Regions from separate parts of the Homo sapiens genome. Here regions 1 and 3 are each linked to region 2. The links come from fine-mapping of genetic effects on gene expression. A gene starts in region 2. Each other region holds a variant in brackets. All regions are shown on one strand. Distances are from middle to middle.

Region 1 (8,268 bases), 160 kb before region 2:
AAAATGTATCCCATAAAAGTCCCTCAAAATTACTATTTCTACTGACTACATACTTACATGAATACATATCTCATAGTCAATGTAAGAATGCCAGAAGTCCTCCTTCTGAATCCTAGGATCTCGAACCCAGACACTTACAAATTCCTGTAATGGCATCATAAACAAAGAAATATTCTTCAGAACTGCAAGTAGGACTGGAAAGAACTGAACAAAACGACTGCACTAAAACAAAACTGAAATGAGCTTTAACCAATGTGGTACTTGTAATCCTTTAAAAAACAAGAAGTAAAGTTAATGAATCAGGCACCACGAGCAAATCTAGAACACACTTTTGCCACATAATGGAATTTTTAAAATAATGCAACACTGAGGTGGGAGCACTTCTGGATAGTTTTACTGGTTATCTGAAGACAAAGTATACTGTAAAACTGATTTTTAATTTTTAATCTTAAATAATTGGTTCAGGTTTTTTTCAAATTTAAAAAGTGATCATTTCTTACTTTCTTCATCTCTCTAAACTGAAACAATGGGCCCTTCTGGGTAAGGTGCTTCCTAGGACACAAATAAGAAAGGCACCAGGCCAAGCAGGGTGGCTCACACCTGTAATCCCAGCACTTTGGAAGGATCTCTTGAGCCCAGGAGTTTGAGACCAGCCTAGGCAACATGGTGAAACCCCATCTCTACAAAAAATACAAAATTAGCCAGGCGCAGTGTGGTGCATGCCTGTAGTCCCAGCTACTCAGGAGGCTGAGGAGGGTGGATCACTTGAGCCCAGGAGGTCAAGGCTACAGTGAGCCTTGATTGTGCCACTGCACTCCAGCCTGGGCAAAAGAGCGAGACCCTGTATCAAAAGAAGAAAAAGAAAGGACACCAAAGCTCATGGGAAAAGTAAGCAAAGAGGGTTGAAGTTGACTTTGTGCATGCATCCCAGCCACATGAGAATAAGCGATAATAACTTATTAATAGAAAGAGGAACACCTTCTTTTACATAATACTTTTCTATTTTTAAAATACATTTCCCCTACATTAAATCATTTCATCTTCATAATACCTTTGTGTTATACATAGAAGTTAGGGATATTAAAAATCATATACAGTAGATAATTTTGTTCTTTTATAAAGATAATAAGAATAGAAAACATGGGGCAAAATTTAAAACAATAGGCCGGGCGCAGTGGCTTACGCCTGTAATCCCAGCACTTTGGGAGGCCGAGGCGGGCAGATCACAAGGTCAAGAGATTGAGCCCATCCTGGCCAACATGGTGAAACACTGTCTCTACTAAAACTACAAAAATCAGCTGGGCGTGGTGGCGTGTGCCTGTAGTCCCAGCTACTTGTGAGGCAGGAGAATCGCTTTAACTCAGGAAGCGGTGGTTGCAGTGAGCCGAGATCGCATCACTGCACTCCAGCCTGGCGACAGAGCAAGTCTCCGTCTCAAAAAAAAAAAAAATTAAAACAATACTTTTTAACAGGTGCTCTTTACTAAATAGGTTTAGTTTAAAAATTTGAAAATGTACAGCAAAAAACTATCATGTTTCACATAAGTTTTTAAGTATAACTTATTTACTCAGTGATCATAAACTTGCTAACTGAGTTTGATTTTAAATATTAGAGCTTTTTGATAAGATTGGGAGTTCAATGCTGGAATTCAGGCATTTCTTATTGCTTGTTGGGGCACATCTGAGAGGCAGGCTATGAACGCTTGAGAGCAGAAGAAAAAGAGAGATCGGGGGCTTTCTGGACAAAGCACCTCCATTGAATCATGCAGATAATTAAATGAGACTCTTCATCATAGAGGATTTTTTTTAATCAAAAAAATACACCACACTCTGAAAATAACTTTTGCCCCTATCAAGTTTCACCTTCTAGGGCAACACTTTGTCCTTGCACTGGAGACTTCTGTCCCACTACTTGTCTTTAGTAGACAGGGATTATGAATTACTGTTCCAAAAAGTCTTCTTTTAAAATATTTTCATTGTGTATTTTTAAAATCATTTAGGGGATAGAATAAGAACAAGATAGGCAGGGCTCACACCTGTAATCCCAGCACTTTGGGAGGCTGAGGCGGGTGGATCACCAGAGGTCGGGTGTTCGAGACCAGCCTGGCCAACATAGTGAAACCCCATCTCTACTAAAAATACAAAAATTAGCTGGGCATGGTGTTGGGCGCCTGTAATCTCAGCTACTCAGGAGGCTGAGGCAGGAAAATTGCTGGAACCCAGGAGGCGGAGGTTGCAGCAAGATCACGCCACTAAATGCACTCCAGCCCGGGCCAACAACAGCAAGACTTGGTCAAAAAAAAAAAAAAAAAAACACAAGATAACACTATAGTGATGCTCTTTGGCCATTATTTCTTTTCTTTTTTCTGTTTTTTGAGATAGGGTCTCACTCTGTCACCCAGACTGGAGTGCAGTGGTACGATCTCAGCTCACTGCAGCCTCAAACTCCAGGGCTAAAATGATCCTCCTACCTTAGCCAACCCCGCCCCCAGTAGCTGGACTACAGGCGGGTGCCACCATGCCCAGCTAATTTTTTAATTTTTTTAGAGATGGGGTCTTGCTATGTTGCCCAGGCTGATTCTGAACTCCTAGGCTCAAGCAACACCCCTGCCTCAGCCTCCCAAAGTGCTGGGATTATAGGCATGAGCCACTGTGCCCCAGCCAGTATTTCTTCTTCTCTATTTCTTTATTTTTTTCATGCGCATTAAGAGACAACCATCATTTCTTAAAAGCACATTCTAAATTATAAGAGGGATTTAAAAACCATTTTTAAACCAAATATCCATAATATCCCCTAATCACAGTGTGATAAAGCAGATTCTGCCCAGGGATGGAAACAGAAGCAAAAATCCAGGTACTCTGCTCTTGGCCTATGCTTTTCACCTCCATCTCTTGTCACCGTGTATGTGTGTGTGTCTCTTAAACTTTTAAATGCACACTCAAAATTCATTGCAGCACTAAGACTCCACATATTGTTTCAATCCTGAAAATCTTTAATTTGGTTGGAGTGCTAAATATCACTATTCTCTTGTGGATGGCAAACTTCTTCCCTCTCTGCATCCTGAAACGTTTCTGTGCCTGAGAGCCAACCCAGGCTGTTGTTCTTTGCACACTATTGCAATTCTAGGGTGACCTCATCCAAACACATTCAACCCCCTCCCATGAGCTGATGGACCCCACCCAAAGCTCCATCCCAGTGCAGGCACCTCTCCCATGGATCCAGCCTCTAGCCTGATCCACCTAGAAGTCCCTTGAGCACGCCATGTCCATACCCTTCCCACAGCATCCTGCTCCCCTTCTCAGTGAAGAGCATCTCCCACCAACCCCAGCTAGAAACCCAGTTCTCCTAGACCCCTCTGTTTGACTCATTCCCCAAATCCACACAGACCAAGTCCTTCATAGTCATTCTCCTTGGAACCACTGACAACTATTCCCTCTGCTACTGCCTTGGTTCAAGGACCTCTTGCCCAACATTAATGCAAGAACTGCTAATTTATTTC[G/T]GGGCCCATATCCAGTGCATTCCCCACATGAAGACAAGAATGGCTCCAAAACACGTATCTGATGATGTTGCTTTCCTTCTGAAAATCCTTCAAAGGTTGCCCCATAACCTTCAAGTTCAAACTCCTCAGCTAGCACAATACAGCCTTTCATGATTTTCACTCTGCTTATCTTCAAAGGCTAAGCATAGGTCCCCATAAGCAACATGCCACTTCACACTTCCATGCCTTTAACTAAGCTGTTCTCTGCCTGGATTGCTAGGCCACCCTACTGCCTTTTTTTTTTTTTTTTTTTAATCTTCTCTTTTCTTCTACTATTTTTTGCCAACTCCAATTCATTTTTCAAATGCAACTCGGTCACCACTTTTTCTGGGAACCCTTCTCAGATTCACCCAGTATGACTTATTTGACCCTCCTCTGGGCCCCTAATGTCTCTGGGATTGCCTTGGGCATAGTCCCTACTCACCACATCCTACTGTGCTGTATTGTAATTACCTGTAGGCCTCCTCTAGCAGACGCTAAGCTCCTGTAGGGCAGCTTAGGCTGTCTTGTAAGACTTGAATGCCTCATACATCCAATGCCTTCCATTAGTATCATTTAATGAATAAATAAATGCCTGTAGGAATAAACAAACTGCCTTCAGGAAAGGAAAATCAAACTTCACTTGAAATTAAAACCTCATCTACTTGGGTTCTTGGGCTCCATGAATTAATGATAAGTTATTTAGCAGCTGGTCTAAGTTTATCTTAATTTAACAAACCCCTTCCTCTAAGGATGTGCCAATTAACAGCATAAGGATCCAAGAGCAATGTTTAAGATCTGGGAGAACAAACTGTTTTCTAGCACCCTAAAGAACTCCAGAAGCACCTATTTACATAGAAATAATTGAAAATCCTTCTGATAGCTTCAGTAACTTAGTCCCCTAAGACTTGTACCAGGCAACAATTTGTTGGCCTAGTGGGAGTTAAAATATGTACTTGAAAGTAATAAAAGTACATTTATTTTAAAATATTCTATAATTCACATGGGTCTCCTCCTCCCCCACTCTGCAATTAGTAGGAATTAGTGAAGTTTCCCCATACTCTCAGCTACAAATAGCACACCCAGGAAGCCAAGGTTCACCTCTAATCTCTTAATTAGACGCATCCCTCACGACACTGCCCGCCATCCTTCAAAGGAATGTTGACAGGCTGTCAGCCACAGAGGACAGTTCCACAGCCCCTTACCTAGAATCATATGGATTTCCTAGGAAAATTGCTTCAGCAGCTGCAGTTAGTCAATTTAATAACCTTATTAAACACTTTAATGACTTCTTGGGCCTAATGACTATATGTAGTATGAGAAAGCCAGGCAGAGTGGAATTAAAAATTTAGACTAACTGTCCCTGCTGTTCTCCATGTGAAAACAGACTTCTAAAGAAAGACTCCTAGACTCTTTGAAGATCTAATTCCTGTGTTATCCTATAATAATCAGCCTTTGATTTCAATGTTCCCTGTTTTTCCCCCATCCCCACACCCCAGGTTTGACCATTATCCACTTCTACCCTATCATTTTTTTCCTTAGCCCTTAAGTGAGATGAAACTAATAATAAAAATAACTGTATTGTATTATACCAGGGCACTTGACATGTGGCAGGCATTATACCGTTTCACAAATGTTTTCTTCAATCTTTACAACAACCCTCAGAGCTCAGTATATTCTCATCCTACTTTACAGATTTTTTAAATGAGGCTTCTAAAGCTTAAGCAACTGGCCCAAAGTCAAATGACCAGCCTGAGCTAAGTTTCAAACTCAGATCTGCCTTGTTCCAAAGACTGTACTCTCAAACATGTTCTATCTCGTGATTCTTTTACTAATAATAAATATTAGGCAATTTCCAATTTCACTGTAATTGTATTGTTTTGGAGGGGGAAGTTTTTTCTGCTTTTATTAGCTAAAATGCCAGTTCAGACAACATGCTCTTCTCAAACTCTGTCCTTCTGGCTTCTTAAAGCTTTGTATTTCATTTTTGTATTTCTAGCACCAAGCATGGTACTAGCACATAGTAAGTGCATATTAAATGTTTCAGAATTAACCAACTGATTGACAAGATTTTTTAAAAAGCAGAGGTCCTCTATGCTGAAAATCTAAGATGCTATTGAAAGGAATCAAAGCAGAGACACACTATGTTCATAAATTGGAAGACGCAACATAGTAAAGAGAGAAATTCTCCCCAAATTGATCTGTAGGTTTAACACAATTCCTATAAAAAATCTCAGCAAGACTTTTTTTGAAGACATAGATGGGCTTATTCTAAAATTTATATGGAAAGGGAAATGTCTTAGAATAGCCAAAAAATTTTTGAAAAAGAATAAAGTGGGAGGAAGCCTTCTTCCCAATGTTAAGGCTACAGCAGCAAGACAATGGAGTCCTAGAGAGGGATAGACACAGAAGATCAGTGAAAGAGAACAGAAAACCCAGAGGGAGACCTACACAAATACGCCCACCTGATTTTTGACAAAGGTGCAAAAACAATTCAAAGGAGAAGGAAAAGCCTCTCAACAAATGATTATGGAACAACTGGACATCCACAGGCCAAGAGATGAACCTCAACCTAAAGCGTGCACCTTATACAAAAATCAACACCAACCAAACCACAGATGTAAATGTCAAACACAAAACATCAGAGAAAACTTTTAGAAAAACTTTTAGAAAAAAAAAAAATCAAAGAAAATCTTTCGGCCTAGGACTAGGAGAAGAGTTCTTCAACTTATCTCAAAAGGGCAATCCACATAAGGAAAAAGTGATCAATTAGGCTTCACCAAACTAAAAATCTTTGCTTTGCAAAAGATGCCGTGAATAAGGTTAAAAGGGCAAATTAAAGATTGAAGAAATATTTGCAAACTACACATCCCATAAAGGACTTGCATCTAGAATATATTTTAAAAAAAAACAAAACTATCAGACGGGTGAGGTGGCTCTCTCCTGTAATCCCAGCACTTTGGGAGGCCAAGGTGGGAGGATCACTTGAGCTCAGGAGTTCAAGACCAGCCTGGGAAACATGGTGAAACATTTAAAAACTAATTAAACAAACATTTAAACAAACATTTAAAAACTAATTAAAAATTAGCTGAGTGTACTGGCTCACACTTGTAGTCCCAGCTACTCAGGAAGCTGAGGTGGGAGGATTGCTTGAGCCTGGTGGGTGGGTGGGAGGTTGCAGTGAGCTGAGATCACACCACTGCACTCCAGCCTCAACAAGAGAGACCCTGTCTCAAAACACTCATTCACTTACTCTTATTTAAAAAATAGAATTCAATTAGAAAACAAGCAAAAGATATGAAGAGACATTTCACCCAAATAGGGCATACAGATGGCAAACAAGCACGTAGAAAGATGTTCGACATCGTTAACCACTAGGGAAATACAATTAACCCTACAATGATATATCATACATACCTATTACAGTTTCCAGGGGGATTATCACTATTTTTTATTTTAGCCATTGTGATAGGTGTGTTTTTTAAAATTTTCCATCATAGCTTAGTTTGAATCTTTGTAGCACAGTAAAGATGAGTAGGTGTTAACTGTAAAAATATTTACTTAGATTACAGAAAGATCACAAAAGACGAAAGCTAATAAAGCAGAATGTCTAGGTGTTAAGTGAATACTAATTTTTCATAGCTTTGATGAGAATTTTCTAACATAAAAATGTAAACTTGTCTCAGTTTGTTCTTTTTCTTGGGACATTTTTTTTCCTATTTCAAAGTAGTGTTTTACATGTTCATGTATTTACACTGGAGACTCATTCATTCACTTAAAATATATTGTGCAACAACAATGCGCTAGGTACTTTTCCATACAACTAATGATTATAGAATTTACCAGTGTGGGCTGGGCGTGGTGGCTCAAGCCTATAATCCCAGCACTTTGGGAGGCCAAGGCAGGCAGATTACCTGAGGTGAGGAGTTTGAGAACAGCCTGGCCAACATGGTGAAACCCCGTCTCTGCTAAAAATACAAAAATTAGCCAGGTGTGGTGGCACACACTTGTAATCCCAGCTACTCGGGAGGCTGAGGCAGGAGAATTGCGTGAGTCTGGGAGGCGGAGGTTGCAGTGAGCAACTGAGATCGTGCCACTGCACTCCAGCCTGGCCGACAGACCAAGACTCTGTCTCCCCACCAAAAAAAAAAAAAAAAAAAAAAAGCATTTACCAGTGTGTTAATCACCAGAGTGCTATTCAGGACCCCCATATAACAATTTCACAACTAAAATCTAGCACATTTCATATACTATATTCTTTACAAATAACAAAATAGAAGGGCAAAAGGAATATATCAAGCAACCTTTCTTTATTTCCTAATAACAGCTGTAACAAATAACTTAAGAGACATATGACAAGGGATATTACTTGCCACTCTACAGCATGGAGTATGTTTAAATACCATCCTCTGGTGGTACTGAATGATGATTTTTTGAGAAGCTTTTATTACTTCAGGATAAACAACTGTGAATGAGATTTAGCTAGACCTGCCTTTTACATGACTTATAATAGCTCACAATGTTGCAAGTTTCTTTACACAAGTAGTATCCCAAATCAGCGAGTTACCTTTTCATATCTTGTAACACATCAGGAAAAGTGCAGAAAAAAAAAACCTCCTCTTCTGCAGTAAGAAATAATTGGCATCCACAAGGATGCAATCAGCAAAATCTAGAATGTGAAAACCTCCATAAGGCAAAAGATGCAATTTCTTCCACAAATAAATTGCAAAAGGGGGAAAAGAGAGAATTAA
Region 2 (8,000 bases):
GAGGTGGGCAGATCATCTGAGGTCAGGAGTTTGAGACCAGCCTGACCAACATGGAGAAACCCCGTTTCTACTAAAAATACAAAATTAGCCAGGCATAGTGGTGCATGCCTGTAATCCCAGCTACTTGGGAGGCTGAGGCAGGAGAACTGCTTGAACCCAGGAGGCTTAAGTTGCGGTGAGCCAAGATCACGCCATTGCACTCTAGCCTGGACAACAAGAGAAAAACTCTGTCTCAAAAAAACACAAAAACAAAAAACCCAAATACTATTTAAAAAAGATAAACCTTAATTGCTCAATCATTAAAGCCATCCCACAAGTAAAGCAGCAAGCAGAAAAAAGTTAAGAACACCTCAAGGCTACAGAAGGACATTTCAAGCTATGCAGGCATATGAAGTGTGCAGACAGATATGTAAGAAAGGCCTCAAGACTGCAAAAGGGCATTTCAAGCTATGCAAGCATATAGGTAACACATACACACACACAAAATAAAAATCCCCTGAAATACAAAAACATGCAGCAAACACCTGACGTTTTTGGATACCATTTCTAAGTCAGGTGTTATGATTCTCATTAGTCAAGATACTTGAGTACTGGGCCCAAACAGCTTTCTGCCACTGTACAGTACAAGAAGGTAGGAATAATGGTGGGAGGAGCAAAGACAAACTGTAATAGACAGAAGTGTATCAGATACCTATACTACATGAAAAACAAAACAGCTACTGCCACAAAGGGAGAAGGCTAACAAAATAAAGTCAACAATAAATACAGAAAATGAAAAGGATACACACTAAGGTTTACAAAAAAAAAAAGGCAGACAAAATGCCATACAGTATTCATTCACTACTATGGCATTCATAAGCTAGTTTCAAATGCTCACTATTTTCTTTTATAGTATATATTTGCCTTAACCCAGCACTTTTTTCCAAAAGTGGATGAGTCAAAATAAATTTCCCATTATTTAAGTGAAATTAACAGCACACATATCTCACAACACTAATGAATTTTTAAAATGGAAAGTTAAGAACTTTTAAAGTGGCCAACCTGTGATCCTTCACAAAATAAACTAAATACAATAACAGACCCCAAAGGCTATCAATTGCGTGCAAAAACAACTTCTGTTTTCCAGGGTAAACAGAATCTAATGCAGAATCTAATGCAGGGTAAACAGACTTAATGCAGAATCTAATGATGGCACAAATTAAAAATCACTAACGTGCCCTTTTTAGTGTGAAACCCAGAGAGAGCACATACAAGCCAAAAACAAATGCTTTATTTTACCTAGGAGACATTAACATTCACCTTTACGTGTTTAAGATTAATGCAATGTTAAATATTGTGAAAACTGTAACTTTGAATTTCATGATTTTTATGTGAATATTCCAGGGTTTAAAAAAACTTGTAACATGACATGGCTGAATAAGATAAAAAAAAAATCTAGCCTTTTCTCCCTTCTGGCTCATATTTGCGATTTCGATCATTTTGTTTAAAAAACAAAACACTGCAATGAATTAAACTTAATATTCTTCTATGTTTTAGAGTAAGTTAAAACAAGATAAAGTGACCAAAGTAATTTGAAAGATTCAATGACTTTTGCTCCAACCTAGGTGCACAAGGTACCTTGTTCTTTAAATTGGGCTTTAATGAAAATACTTCTCCAGAATTCTGGGGATTTAAGAAAAATTATGCCAACCAACAAGGGCTTTACCATTTTATGTAACATTTTTCAACGCTGCAAAAATGTGTGTATTTCTATTTGAAGATAAAAATCCTCAGCAAAATCCACATTGCACTGTCCTTCAAAGATTAGCCTTCTTTGAACTAGTTAAGACACTATTAAGCCAAGCCAGTATCTCCCTGTAATGAATTCGTTTTTCTCTTAATTTTCCCCTGTAATTTACACTGGGAGAGCTGGGAAATATGTGGATGTAAATTTCTCAGCCACAGAGATGCAAAGTTATACTGTGGGGAAAAAAAACTTGAGTTAAATCCTTACATATTTTAGGTTTTCATTAACTTACCAATGTAGTTTTGTTGGAGGCCATTTTTTATTGCAGACTTGAAGAGCTATTACTAGAAAAATGCATGACAGTTAAGGTAAGTTTGCATGACACAAAAAAGGTAACTAAATACAAATTCTGTTTGGATTCCAACCCCCAAGTAGAGAGCGCACATTTCAAACGTGAATACAAATCCAGAGTAGATCTGCGCTCCTACCTACATTGCTTATGATGTACTTAAGTACGTGTCCTAACCATGTGAGTCTAGAAAGACTTTACTGGGGATCCTGGTACCTAAAACAGCTTCACATGGCTTAAAATAGGGGACCAATGTCTTTTCCAATCTAAGTCCCATTTATAATAAAGTCCATGTTCCATTTTTAAAGGACAATCCTTTCGGTTTAAAACCAGGCACGATTACCCAAACAACTCACAACGGTAAAGCACTGTGAATCTTCTCTGTTCTGCAATCCCAACTTGGTTTCTGCTCAGAAACCCTCCCTCTTTCCAATCGGTAATTAAATAACAAAAGGAAAAAACTTAAGATGCTTCAACCCCGTTTCGTGACACTTTGAAAAAAGAATCACCTCTTGCAAACACCCGCTCCCGACCCCCGCCGCTGAAGCCCGGCGTCCAGAGGCCTAAGCGCGGGTGCCCGCCCCCACCCGGGAGCGCGGGCCTCGTGGTCAGCGCATCCGCGGGGAGAAACAAAGGCCGCGGCACGGGGGCTCAAGGGCACTGCGCCACACCGCACGCGCCTACCCCCGCGGCGGCCACGTTAACTGGGCGGTCGCCGCAGCCTCGGGACAGCCGGCCGCGCGCCGCCAGGCCTCGCGGACGCGGGACCACGCGCCGCCCTCCGGGAGGCCCAAGTCTCGACCCAGCCCCGCGTGGCGGCTGGGGGAGGGGGCGCCTCCGCCGGAACGCGGGTGGGGGAGGGGAGGGGGAAATGCGCTTTGTCTCGAAATGGGGCAACCGTCGCCACAGCTCCCTACCCCCTCGAGGGCAGAGCAGTCCCCCCACTAACTACCGGCGCTGGCCGCGCGCCAGGCCAGCCGCGAGGCCACCGCCCGACCCTCCACTCCTTCCCGCAGCTCCCGGCGCGGGGTCCGGCGAGAAGGGGAGGGGAGGGGAGCGGAGAACCGGGCCCCCGGGACGCGTGTGGCATCTGAAGCACCACCAGCGAGCGAGAGCTAGAGAGAAGGAAAGCCACCGACTTCACCGCCTCCGAGCTGCTCCGGGTCGCGGGTCTGCAGCGTCTCCGGCCCTCCGCGCCTACAGCTCAAGCCACATCCGAAGGGGGAGGGAGCCGGGAGCTGCGCGCGGGGCCGCCGGGGGGAGGGGTGGCACCGCCCACGCCGGGCGGCCACGAAGGGCGGGGCAGCGGGCGCGCGCCCGGCGGGGGGAGGGGCCGCGCGCCGCGCCCGCTGGGAATTGGGGCCCTAGGGGGAGGGCGGAGGCGCCGACGACCGCGGCACTTACCGTTCGCGGCGTGGCGCCCGGTGGTCCCCAAGGGGAGGGAAGGGGGAGGCGGGGCGAGGACAGTGACCGGAGTCTCCTCAGCGGTGGCTTTTCTGCTTGGCAGCCTCAGCGGCTGGCGCCAAAACCGGACTCCGCCCACTTCCTCGCCCCTGCGGTGCGAGGGTGTGGAATCCTCCAGACGCTGGGGGAGGGGGAGTTGGGAGCTTAAAAACTAGTACCCCTTTGGGACCACTTTCAGCAGCGAACTCTCCTGTACACCAGGGGTCAGTTCCACAGACGCGGGCCAGGGGTGGGTCATTGCGGCGTGAACAATAATTTGACTAGAAGTTGATTCGGGTGTTTCCGGAAGGGGCCGAGTCAATCCGCCGAGTTGGGGCACGGAAAACAAAAAGGGAAGGCTACTAAGATTTTTCTGGCGGGGGTTATCATTGGCGTAACTGCAGGGACCACCTCCCGGGTTGAGGGGGCTGGATCTCCAGGCTGCGGATTAAGCCCCTCCCGTCGGCGTTAATTTCAAACTGCGCGACCGTTTCTCACCTGCCTTGCGCCAAGGCAGGGGGCGGGACCCTATTCCAAGAGGTAGTAACTAGCAGGACTCTAGCCTTCCGCAATTCATTGAGCGCATTTACGGAAGTAACGTCGGGTACTGTCTCTGGCCGCAAGGGTGGGAGGAGTACGCATTTGGCGTAAGGTGGGGCGTAGAGCCTTCCCGCCATTGGCGGCGGATAGGGCGTTTACGCGACGGCCTGACGTAGCGGAAGACGCGTTAGTGGGGGGGAAGGTTCTAGAAAAGCGGCGGCAGCGGCTCTAGCGGCAGTAGCAGCAGCGCCGGGTCCCGTGCGGAGGTGCTCCTCGCAGAGTTGTTTCTCGAGCAGCGGCAGTTCTCACTACAGCGCCAGGACGAGTCCGGTTCGTGTTCGTCCGCGGAGATCTCTCTCATCTCGCTCGGCTGCGGGAAATCGGGCTGAAGCGACTGAGTCCGCGATGGAGGTAACGGGTTTGAAATCAATGAGTTATTGAAAAGGGCATGGCGAGGCCGTTGGCGCCTCAGTGGAAGTCGGCCAGCCGCCTCCGTGGGAGAGAGGCAGGAAATCGGACCAATTCAGTAGCAGTGGGGCTTAAGGTTTATGAACGGGGTCTTGAGCGGAGGCCTGAGCGTACAAACAGCTTCCCCACCCTCAGCCTCCCGGCGCCATTTCCCTTCACTGGGGGTGGGGGATGGGGAGCTTTCACATGGCGGACGCTGCCCCGCTGGGGTGAAAGTGGGGCGCGGAGGCGGGAATTCTTATTCCCTTTCTAAAGCACGCTGCTTCGGGGGCCACGGCGTCTCCTCGGCGAGCGTTTCGGCGGGCAGCAGGTCCTCGTGAGCGAGGCTGCGGAGCTTCCCCTCCCCCTCTCTCCCGGGAACCGGATTTGGCGGCCGCCATTTTCATGGCTCGCCTTCCTCTCAGCGTTTTCCTTATAACTCTTTTATTTTCTTAGTGTGCTTTCTCTATCAAGAAGTAGAAGTGGTTAACTATTTTTTTTTCTTCTCGGGCTGTTTTCATATCGTTTCGAGGTGGATTTGGAGTGTTTTGTGAGCTTGGATCTTTAGAGTCCTGCGCACCTCATTAAAGGCGCTCAGCCTTCCCCTCGATGAAATGGCGCCATTGCGTTCGGAAGCCACACCGAAGAGCGGGGAGGGGGGGTGCTCCGGGTTTGCGGGCCCGGTTTCAGAGAAGATATCACCACCCAGGGCGTCGGGCCGGGTTCAATGCGAGCCGTAGGACAAAGAAACCATTTTATGTTTTTCCTGTCTTTTTTTTCCTTTGAGTAACGGTTTTATCTGGGTCTGCAGTCAGTAAAACGACAGATGAACCGCGGCAAAATAAACATAAATTGGAAGCCATCGGCCACGAGGGGCAGGGACGAAGGTGGTTTTCTGGGCGGGGGAGGGATATTCGCGTCAGAATCCTTTACTGTTCTTAAGGATTCCGTTTAAGTTGTAGAGCTGACTCATTTTAAGTAATGTTGTTACTGAGAAGTTTAACCCTTACGGGACAGATCCATGGACCTTTATAGATGATTACGAGGAAAGTGAAATAACGATTTTGTCCTTAGTTATACTTCGATTAAAACATGGCTTCAGAGGCTCCTTCCTGTAATGCGTATGGATTGATGTGCAAAACTGTTTTGGGCCTGGGCCGCTCTGTATTTGAACTTTGTTACTTTTCTCATTTTGTTTGCAATCTTGGTTGAACATTACATTGATAAGCATAAGGTCTCAAGCGAAGGGGGTCTACCTGGTTATTTTCTTTGACCCTAAGCACGTTTATAAAATAACATTGTTTAAAATCGATAGTGGACATCGGGTAAGTTTGGATAAATTGTGAGGTAAGTAATGAGTTTTTGCTTTTTGTTAGTGATTTGTAAAACTTGTTATAAATGTACATTATCCGTAATTTCAGTTTAGAGATAACCTATGTGCTGACGACAATTAAGAATAAAAACTAGCTGAAAAAATGAAAATAACTATCGTGACAAGTAACCATTTCAAAAGACTGCTTTGTGTCTCATAGGAGCTAGTTTGATCATTTCAGTTAATTTTTTCTTTAATTTTTACGAGTCATGAAAACTACAGGAAAAAAATCTGAACTGGGTTTTACCACTACTTTTTAGGAGTTGGGAGCATGCGAATGGAGGGAGAGCTCCGTAGAACTGGGATGAGAGCAGCAATTAATGCTGCTTGCTAGGAACAAAAAATAATTGATTGAAAATTACGTGTGACTTTTTAGTTTGCATTATGCGTTTGTAGCAGTTGGTCCTGGATATCACTTTCTCTCGTTTGAGGTTTTTTAACCTAGTTAACTTTTAAGACAGGTTTCCTTAACATTCATAAGTGCCCAGAATACAGCTGTGTAGTACAGCATATAAAGATTTCAGCTCTGAGGTTTTTCCTATTGACTTGGAAAATTGTTTTGTGCCTGTCGCTTGCCACATGGCCAATCAAGTAAGCTTCAGCTTTCAGTAATTGTTATCTTAGAGATTATGCCACGTGAATGTATTTTATTGTACATATGGTTAAGCTGAGTAATTCATATTCTGTATTGTCATATATCAAATATAGACATGTCCACCAAAAATTAAACTTTTTAAGCTTCGAGTGCTGCTGGTCATAAAAATTAATTTGTCCTGGTTATAAGAGTAATTTTTAAGGTTATTTCTAATGCATATCTTTAAATATTTTCGTAACTGAGAGTCATATGGAGAAACTTAGTGTTTGTTGTAAAAAGTTGTGTTTTTTTGGCTGAGATACTTAGAATCACCACCAGAGGGGGCAGTTAAGGGAAAATAAATGATACTTTTCAGATATTGAATAGTGAAATAAAAACTTTGGGTCATAAGTAATGAACCAAGAGTTATTTTCTGATGTTTAAAAATAGAAATTTGCGTTTTTAGGTTGTAGGGTTGAAATTTTTGGTAAAGATTCTTTAATAATCCTTTGATAATCACGGTCTACATTTGTTTATTTTTCCTTAGAAAGTTTTTTTTTTAATTAATAATTTAAGATAATTTAATGTTGAGTAAATTTATATCAAGCATTAATGACTTTGAAACTTGTGTAGATCAGCTGAGGCAATTTTTTGGTGTAACACAACTAATATGCAGTTTAACATATGGTTTAAATTTGATGTAAGTTTTTTTTTTCCCCCCAGAAAACTTTAGAAACTGTTCCTTTGGAGAGGAAAAAGGTACTCTGCCAGCAGGTCACCTCATATTTAAGAATTTAATTTCCTGCATACAAAGAGGAAAATGTAAATAAAAATTGAAATGGTATTTTCCTTTGCAGAGAGAAAAGGAACAGTTCCGTAAGCTCTTTATTGGTGGCTTAAGCTTTGAAACCACAGAAGAAAGTTTGAGGAACTACTACGAACAATGGGGAAAGCTTACAGACTGTGTGGTATGTAAATTACTGAATTGTTACTGGATATTAGTCTTTTAGCTGTATGTTAAGTGAATCATGGAGGAAATAACTATCAGCATAGTAAAAAATTCTATTATGACTTCACTTATAAGCTATAATGAGATTAAATGCTAAAGTTTACCCTTTGGTTTGAAAGGTAATGAGGGATCCTGCAAGCAAAAGATCAAGAGGATTTGGTTTTGTAACTTTTTCATCCATGGCTGAGGTTGATGCTGCCATGGCTGCAAGACCTCATTCAATTGATGGGAGAGTAGTTGAGCCAAAACGTGCTGTAGCAAGAGAGGTAAGCAAACAATGACTGTCTTGTGCATTAACATGAAGAACGCTGCCCTGCTGAAAATCAGAAACTATTTCTGAATTTAGTTTTAACTCAAGATTTTTTCTCTTATTAAAGGTGTGTTGGGTTTCTGGACCATTTTCTTAAGCTAGCTTATTTTTCAAAAGCTAGGTCCCTAAAAGCTATTTTATATCTGGTAGTTTTAAGGTGGATACAAGCGAAGTATGGTACTACGGTTGGGTGCTTTGAATTATGCTTGTGTTTTTTTCTGTTTGGATGA
Region 3 (8,268 bases), 45 kb after region 2:
CCACTCAGACAGTTGGCATTAAATAGTCAGATGGCCCATCAGGATTTCAGATCTGACCTACTTTCTAGTTGAGACTCGGGCCTTGAAGGACCCAAGACACCTTCACACCCATGGTATCTTTGAAGTTCTGCAAACACAATGTCATGAATGATAAGTGCTCAACAGACAGACACTGGCTGAACTGACCTCTGCTCCTAACCCTGTCCCTGGGTGCTATTTCAGGTGAAAGCCAAGACCCAGTCTCCACATTCCAGCCACTGCAGTTCAAAGGAGAGGATGCCAAGTCCTATAGAAGAAATGTTACAGAGTGCAATAGGGCTCAAAGGGAAGAACAGGAAATGTTTTATGGATGAGGTGATGGTTGAGCTGAGTTTGAGAATTTAACCATAAAAGACTTGAGAGGAATGAAAGGAAGGCATTCCGGGCAAAGGTAAGAACAGACTAAAGGGCAGGAGATCATAGGGTTGTTGGGCAAAGGGATGAAGAAAGTTTTCTCCTGGAAAGAAGGCTACATGGAGAGGCCCAGCAAGAGCAGCTGGGGGCTGGGTCACATAAGCCACAAGGGCAGCCCTGAATGACAAAATACTGAATAAGTAGGCAATGGCGAGCTAGAGGAGGCATCCCACAAAACGCAGAGAGACGAACCAAGGTGTGCTTTGGAAACCTGCACCTGACAACACAATGGACGGGAGTAAATTGGGGAAGAAGCGGTACAAGCCCCACCTGAATTATTAATAGTGTATCAACCCTGCTCAACTTGCACTATCTCATTCAATCCTCACCACCACTTCCCTAAGGTGCTCTTACTATTCCATTTTACGGATAAGGGAACCAAGGCTCAGAGCACTTAAGAAGTGTGCCCCAGATCACACAGCCAGTGTGGCACTGGGATCTTCCCCAGCTGGTCTGACTCCAGGGCCAGCACACAAGACCCCTAGACCAGCCTGCCTCAAGTCAGGGCTTGGGCCCTGCATGCTCATTTCCCACTGTGTGGGTTGAGAAGTAGGGGTCATGGAAAGAAGGAGAATGATACAAGAGACTTGGCAAAGATGATTTCTCTGTAACCTACTAATGGAGGGGAAATACTGACTGGAAAAAGATGGTTTGAGCCAAGCTTCCTCAGGGTTGCACATCAAGCCAGCAAAACCCCAGATTTTCTCAGGAGCACACACCAAGTCCTATGCAAATGATCCTCCATATAGACCAGCTGCTTTCAGAAACAGCTCAGTTAGCTTTTAATCATAAGCAAGCTGAACACCCCAAGAATTGATGGAAGGAAGATGGTGATTGTTATAGATTGAACTGTGTCCCCAAAATTCATGTTGAACTCCTAACCCCCATACTTTGGAAACTGGGTCCATTGCAGATGTAACTAGGTAAGTTAAGATAGGAAGGAAGGTAGACCCTTATCCAATGATGTCCTTATAAAAAGGGAAATCTGGCCAGCCTGGGTAACATGGCAAAACCCTCGTCTCTACAAAAATTAAAAAATTAGCTGGGCGTGGTGGCAGGCGCCTGTAATCTCAGCTACTTGGGAGGCTGAGGCAGGAGAATCGCTCGATCCTGGGAGGCAGAGGTTGCAGTGAGCCGAGATTGCGCCATTGAATTCCAGCCTGGGAGACAGAGCAAGATTCCATCTCAAAAATAAAAAACAAAACAAAACAAAAAAACCCCAACAACAAAAAAGGGAAATTTGGATACAGACATGCACATAGGGAGAATGCCATGTGAAGATGAAGGCAGAGCTCAGGTGATGGAGAAGAAACCAAGGAATGCCAAAGATTGCCAGCAAACCACCAAAAGGCAGGAGAGAGCTGTAGAACACTTTCTCCCTCACAGCCCGCAGAAGGGCCAATCTGCTGACACCTTGATCTTGGACTTCTTGCCTCCAGAACTGTTAGAGAATAAATTTCTGTTTAAGCCACCCAGTCTGTGGTATTTGTTATGGCAGCCCTAGCAAATTCATACAGTAACTTATGACATCCTTTCCCATACAAAGACAATAGTGCACCTTTACAACTTCCTTTAGTAAACAAAATGAAAATCCCACTGTGAACGCTTGTCATAAACGCAATGTATGTAATTATAAGACTATTTCCGTAACATAGCTGTGAGTTAAAAACAGGCAAATGTCTGAAATTTCATCTCTTGTCCAATTGCCCAGGAGTTAGGGACTATTTTTTATTCTGAAATGAAAAACAATTTTTACTTTAACAATCAAGGACCTTCTTTCTCTTTCCTTTACTCTTAGAATTAAATATTGAGGCCAGGTGCAGTAGCTCATGCCTGTACTTGAGCCCAGGAGTTTGAGACCAGCCTGGGCAACACAGAGAGACCTTATTTCTATTAAAAAAAAAAAAAATCAGCCAGAAGCAGTGGTGCGCGTCTGTAGTCCCAGCTACTTGGGAGGCTGAGGTGGGAGAATTGTTTGAGTCCAGGAGGTTGAGGTAGCAGTGAGCTGTGATGGTACTACTATACTCCAGCCTGGGAGGCAAAGTGACCCTGTCCCAAAAAAAATTAAATATTGACTGGATCAGATTCTCTCTGTGCCCTGAAGAAACCAGCCCAACAGTTTCTTTTCTTTTTTTTTCTTTTGAGATGGAGTCTCGCTTTGTCACCCAGGCTGGAGTGCAGTAGAGCGATCTCGGCTCACTGCACCCTCCGCCTCCCAGGTTCAAGCGAGTCTCTTGCCTCAGGCTCCCGAGTAGCTGGGACTACAGGCACGTGCCACCGTGCCCGGCTAATTTTTAGTATTTTTAGTAGAGACGGGGTTTCACCGTGTTGGCTAGGATGGTCTCGATGTCTTGATCTCGTAATCCTCCTGCCTCGGCCTCCCAAAGTGTTGGGATTACAGGTGTGAGCCACCACACCCGGCCCAGCCCAACAGTTTCTTCAGGCAGTTAATCAAGAGGTCTTACCAGACCCCTCACCCAGCAGAGGGTCTCTGTACCAGGATAGGAAACCACATCAAAATGACTACAAGCCCTCTCAGTTTCAAAGTGGCAACAGCTCTCTGAAATACTGAAGCTGGCTGTAGGCAGCTGTTCCATACGTTTACACATTCAATTCTACAAAAACTGTTCATTTCTTTGTTTAACCTGTGTGTTACTTGGAAGAATGCATGCTTCATCCGTTGTGAATGACTGTGGTTATGAAGGGAAGCGTGTCAGCCCTGGGGAATTCCAGAGTCAGTTTTCAGATCATGATAAGCCCCAGTAAGAAGTGAAACCAAAACAGTACTCCTTTTGATACTTGGAAAATCCCCTACTCCAAAATATTTTTGCATATGTACATAAATTATGGAAAATTATACTATAAAACTCCTGCAACTCAAATGTAAGCCACCGGAATTATCTATTTTTTAAAATTAAAAATTATGTTCCTATGGGACAAAGCACTTCGTCTCTTTGAAGTTAACAGTAGCTAACATTTACTAACTAAGCACTTAAGTGACAGGCAAGTTCTAA[G/A]CCCTTTACATGGAATGAACTTTTTAATTCTCACATCAACCCTCTGAGGTAAGCCCCTTCTGATTCCCATTGTGCATGGGAATGCACACAGAATGAAGCACAGAAAGGATAAGCAACTTGTCCAAGGTCACAGACGTGGTAGAGCTGGGATTCAAAACCAGGCAGTCTGGGTCTAGCATACCCCACTTCTTCAATAACCAACCAAACTAGATATGCAGACAAGCCAAAAGGAATCCAGTGAGTGGGGACAGGTGAAGGAGGGTGGGTTAAGGACGGAGGGCAGAAGAGCGCAGCTACAATCCAGGCACCATGCTGCTCTTCCCATGGGCTTTTCCCACTTAATCAGCACACCTCCCCCTGGAGTACACATTCCTCTCCCACTTGACATGAGACACTGAAGCTTGGAGTGATTCAAGCAGCTTATGGGAGGGCATACTAGCAGGTGATACTCCCAAACCCAGGTCTAGCTGACCGCAAAGACCAGTGTTGTTTTTCCAGCCCATTTTCTCCCCAAAGTCATGGTTCCAAATTGCAACCTCTTCATTATGAATGGCACAATCTAGCACTGGAGAGTGATTAGCCTGGGCAGTGGAAGGCTGAGTCACCCCATCCCAGATGCACTGAGACGTCCTAGATGTCCCAAGAGCTTGAGTACCGTGTAGGTACTTAATTAATGTGCCAGTCTGAGAGTCAAGAGACTCAGGCTCTGGTCTCTCTTTTGGCACTGACATGTGGCTTTAGCCAAATCCCTAACCTAGGCTTCTAGTTTTCTTCTTCTTCTTCATTTTTTTTCTTTTTGAGACAGAGTCTCACTCTGTCACCCAGGCTGGAGTTCAGTGGCACAATCTCGGCTCACTGCAACCTCCGCCGCCCAGATTCAAGTGATTCTCGTGCCTCAGCCTCCCGAGTAGCTGGGACTACGGGCATGTGTAATCACGCCCAAGTAATTTTTGTATTTTTAGTAAAGATGGGGTTCACCATGTTGCCCAGTCTGGTCTCGAACTCCTGACCTCAAGTGATCTGCCTGCCTCAGCCTCCCAAAGTGCTGGGATAACAGGTGTGAGCCACCGCACTCAGCCCTATTTTTCTTAAGTACAAATTGTATATAAGGGTGCCTGGCCAGTGCACCACACAAGGTTGATGTAAAAGGCAACAAAAGTGAACTGGCCGTGACAACTGTAAGGAGCTGGACAGCTGATTTTTGCCAGATTGAATGTAACCAGGTCATCCCAGCAGTGAACATGGTGCACACATGCCAGCCCAGCCAGGAAGGCACTGCCAGGAGAATGGTTCTCGGGGAACTTCACTCTCTCCCCTAGGAAAGCTGGATTCAGAGCCTCCACAGTGGTTTGGCTGGCCTAGGCTCAAAAAATGCCTCCAAGGCAGGCCTGCCAGTCTAGGCCACCCATGGTGGCTCATGCCTGTAAACCCAGCACTTTGGGAGGCTGAGATGGGATGGGTACTTGAGCCAAGGAGTTCGAGACCAGCCTAGGCAACATAGCGAGACCTGTCTCTACAAAAAATCAGCCAGTATGGTGGTGCACGCCAGTTCTCCTAGCTACCTGGGAGACTGAAGTGGAAGGATTGCTGGAGCCGGGGAGGTTGAGGCTGCAGTGAGTCGTCATTGCACCTTTGCACTCCAGCCTGGGCAACAGAGCAAGACCCTGTCTTTAAAACAAAACAAACAAAAAAACAGCCAAGGGAAGGCCACTTTGTCTCCCAGGTGATGCCGGGAGGGAAGTTTCCGAGGACTGAACAGCTTCCTCTCTTCTCCCTCCAGGTCCCTGTGCACTTTGCACACAGGTTGGCATTCGGGTGTGGGTGGCAGAGTGCCATCTGGTACAGCATCCAGCACTAGGTTTCAACTCTGTGTTACAGAACCAGGAATGGTGGTAGTGCACAAGTACTCACTTATTAGAGGGCAGAGCATTTAGGTGAGACAGACCCCATGGGGTCCAGATTGGATGAGTGAGTGGGGAAGAACCTCCCACAGTATATCCTGAACACAGAAGGATCCCTCCAAGACTCTCACTGGCCCCCACCCCATTGGTTCCGGTCCCCAGGAAGAGGAAGGGCTCAGATCAGCATAACAGTGAATCACCGAGCACTTCCACACAATGACCCCTCCAGGAGGGTGGAGAAGCTTGTCTGGCAACAGCCTACACAAACGGCAATTCTGAAGAGCAACAAACAAACCAGTTTAGCCCCAATTCCCATTTTGCATAAGAATGCGCCCCACAAAAACAACACCCGAAGAACATTAGTTGATCACCACTGGTTGATCGTTACCAGTTGCAAACACTAAAGTTTGAGCCAAGACAGAATTTTAAAAGTCCCCTGGAAGGAACTTTGGGTAAAGTGGTTTTGTGGAAACTGGTGTTAAAGTGTCATTAGACTGAACTCAAACGTTCCATGGGGAGCACCAGATGTTTCAAGCAACAGATCTTGGTAAACTTGGTTTCAGAAAGAAGTTAAGCCAGAGAAGGGTTTGGACCCATAAACCAAAGGGAACTTGTTAGTCACTAAGTGACTGCCAAGGTACCTGTTTTCGTTATGCTAATAAGAGGTTACACAAATTCCAGGAAGGAGGATTGCTAGGTGCAGGGGATGGTTAGGTCACAGGGGGACCGCCTGCCGGCTGGCCTCTGAATAGACCCTGACCATGGCTCCTTAATCCAGGGAAGCAGCAAAAACGAACAGCAATTGGGCTGAAAACAGGGCGAAGGTCCTTGCGTTAGGCCGGGAGAGTCGTTCTTAAAAACATGCATCCTCCCAGAGGTCACGGCCTCCTTCACATCGTCCAGGTCGGGCACGGGTCCCAGAGAACGACACCCCAGTGTACATGAGGTACTGAGCGAAGACAGTGGGCATTGCTTCTCCCCTCCCCATCCCCGAACTACTCTTGCCAGCCATCACACACAAGGAAAGGTATTCTCTATAACCAAACGGATGATTTCGTCCACTTCTTCCTTAAACACCTAAAAACCACAGCGACAGCACTAGTAGCCCTTCATTCGGAATCAGAGCAGCAGCATCTGCGAACCTGCAAAGACCAGGGGCTAAGGGTGCCAGGACACAGCGAGAGTGGCCCCTGCTCAGATCCGACACAAGCCTCGGGGGCTCCCGGCGGCGTAGACGCCGCACTTCGCTCGCTTCCCGCTCTGCACCTACCTCGCTCGCACATCCGCCAGCGTCCGGCACCTGAGCCGTCGGTTCCGCGGGTGCCTTCTCCTCTTCCCCGGCGTCCAAGGGGCCACTCCGAGCCGCTCGGGGGTCCCCGCCGCCCCCCTGCACAGCCTGGCTGCCGCCGTCCACGCTGGCGCCGGCTCCTCCGGTGGACGAGGCGGCGGCGGCGCCGAGCAGCCCGTGGGCCTCGTCCGCGCTCCCGGCAGCCACGCTGTGCACCAGCCATGCATCCACGCTGGTGCGAGGGACGAAGGGGACCCCGAGCGCGCGCACCTCCCGGAGCAGCTGGCCCTCGGGCGGCGCGGCAGGGTCCAGCTCCCGGCCCTTGGGGTGCAAGTGGCCCGCGCGCCCCCACCCTCCCGAGGCCGAGAAGGGGCTGAGCGCGTAGGCGGAGCTGGCCGGGCCGCCCAGGAACAGCAGCTCGTCCTGCAGCAGGGTGGGCGGCGGCAGCAGCAGGTAAAGATCTAGGTCTACGCGGAGCCCCGCCAAGCTCAGCAGGAGGGTGAGGTGCAGGAGGCCGCCGCCGGCCGACCACCACCGCTTCAGGTGCTTCATCGCCGCCGCGCGCCCGGGAACGCCCCTGCCGGCGCCCGCGGGTCCCGGCGCCCCAGCCGCCGGGGTGACACGTGCGGACCCCGCGCGCCGCCCGCACCTGCCTGGAACCCAGATAAGCGAAACAATGGACCGGGGCGCGTGGCGGCCGTCGCGGGTTCCCAGCACCGGGCACAAAGGCGTTCCCTCGGCAGCCGGCACCGTGCCTGGCACCGCCGGGGATCGGGAGAAGCGAAGAAGGAGCCACCTGAGCGCCGAGCCCGTTCGCCCAGCCGCCCGCAGCCCGGCGCGGTGGCCAAGCTCCGCCCCCGGCCGCGGGCGCAGCCGACAGGAACACGCCCCCTGCCGCCCGGGGCCCGCGCCCGTGGGAGGGGCCGCACGGGGCGGGGCTCCCCGAGCTCAAAGCCTCTTTATGTCCGGGGAACGCAAGGCTTTCTGGGAGCAGAAGTTGTTCTGGGCACCAAGTGGCCCCTTGCCACCCTGTGGCCGTGAGCTGGGCCATCCTTGCTGAAAGCCAAGGGCGGGAGTTGGGGTGGAGGGCTAGGTGGTGGGTAGCTGGGTGGGAAGGGACAGGATGTGTAGACTGGGCGGAGAGTGACTGGGCAGCTACGAGGGGCCTGGCAGCTTGCAACGGGCTTCCACCCCAACGTGAGGACACTTGGCGGGCAGAGTGGGCAAGAGTAACCTCTCTGTCTCAGTTCCGCTATCTGTAAAATGGGGATCATAGAGCCTGTCAAACAGGGATGTGTTGAGGTCAGATGAAATATTTCGTGTAAAGTTCGGAGTTTCACATATAAATTCCACCGTTGCCATTGGGATCAGTCATCCCACCACTCCGCACACCCCAGTCCCAGCCTCACAGACCCCTCTCTCTTCTCTGGGCGTGCTCTGCATAGTGCTAGACCTCCTCTCGGTATCCTTTGCTCCTTATCCGTTGTTTCCTTGAGGGTTGACAGCACCAGCTCTACAGTTACCCTGAGTGAGTTCAAGTCCCCCCTCCACTTGAGGGGCGACCTTGGACAAATCTCTCCTTTTCTCTGTGCCTCAGTTTTCTCACTGTAAA

Alleles and levels. Alleles are on the strand shown, and positions count from the first base shown. SD is a standard deviation of normalised expression in the study named. Not every link is listed here.
For the expression in subcutaneous fat of the gene that starts at base 3,296 in region 2, allele T in region 1 goes with a higher level than allele G (small effect, 0.16 SD a copy in GTEx).

Evidence for each region.
Region 1: its variant is fine-mapped to the expression of CBX3 in subcutaneous fat (GTEx, PIP 0.97).
Region 3: its variant is fine-mapped to the expression of CBX3 in whole blood (TOPMed, PIP 0.95).

Annotation. Positions count from the first base shown.
Region 1 is chr7:26,352,851-26,361,118 of GRCh38, reverse strand. It overlaps SNX10 (sorting nexin 10), which reads right to left. Exons shown (of 7, transcript NM_013322.3): 3 at 58-144. Among named protein-coding and RNA genes, the nearest start is that of LINC02981, 42 kb to the left of the region's middle. The variant G/T (reference allele first, on the strand shown) is at 3,500.
Region 2 is chr7:26,197,041-26,205,040 of GRCh38, reverse strand. It overlaps CBX3 (chromobox 3), which reads right to left and starts at 3,296. Exons shown (of 6, transcript NM_016587.4): 1 at 3,215-3,296; 2 at 2,019-2,070. The coding sequence starts at 2,042. HNRNPA2B1 (heterogeneous nuclear ribonucleoprotein A2/B1) reads left to right here and starts at 4,295. Exons shown (of 11, transcript NM_002137.4): 1 at 4,295-4,469; 2 at 7,309-7,419; 3 at 7,580-7,726. The coding sequence starts at 4,464. RefSeq lists a silencer at 2,592-3,411 and enhancers at 4,352-4,741, 3,907-4,879, 4,852-4,971, 4,880-5,853.
Region 3 is chr7:26,151,439-26,159,706 of GRCh38, reverse strand. NFE2L3 (NFE2 like bZIP transcription factor 3) reads right to left here and starts at 7,509. Exons shown (of 4, transcript NM_004289.7): 1 at 6,639-7,509. The coding sequence starts at 7,208. RefSeq lists silencers at 4-298, 6,731-6,800, 6,811-7,060, 7,171-7,240, 7,251-7,320 and 1 more and enhancers at 350-850, 851-1,351, 2,261-2,310, 2,511-2,590, 6,421-6,610 and 2 more. The variant G/A (reference allele first, on the strand shown) is at 3,468.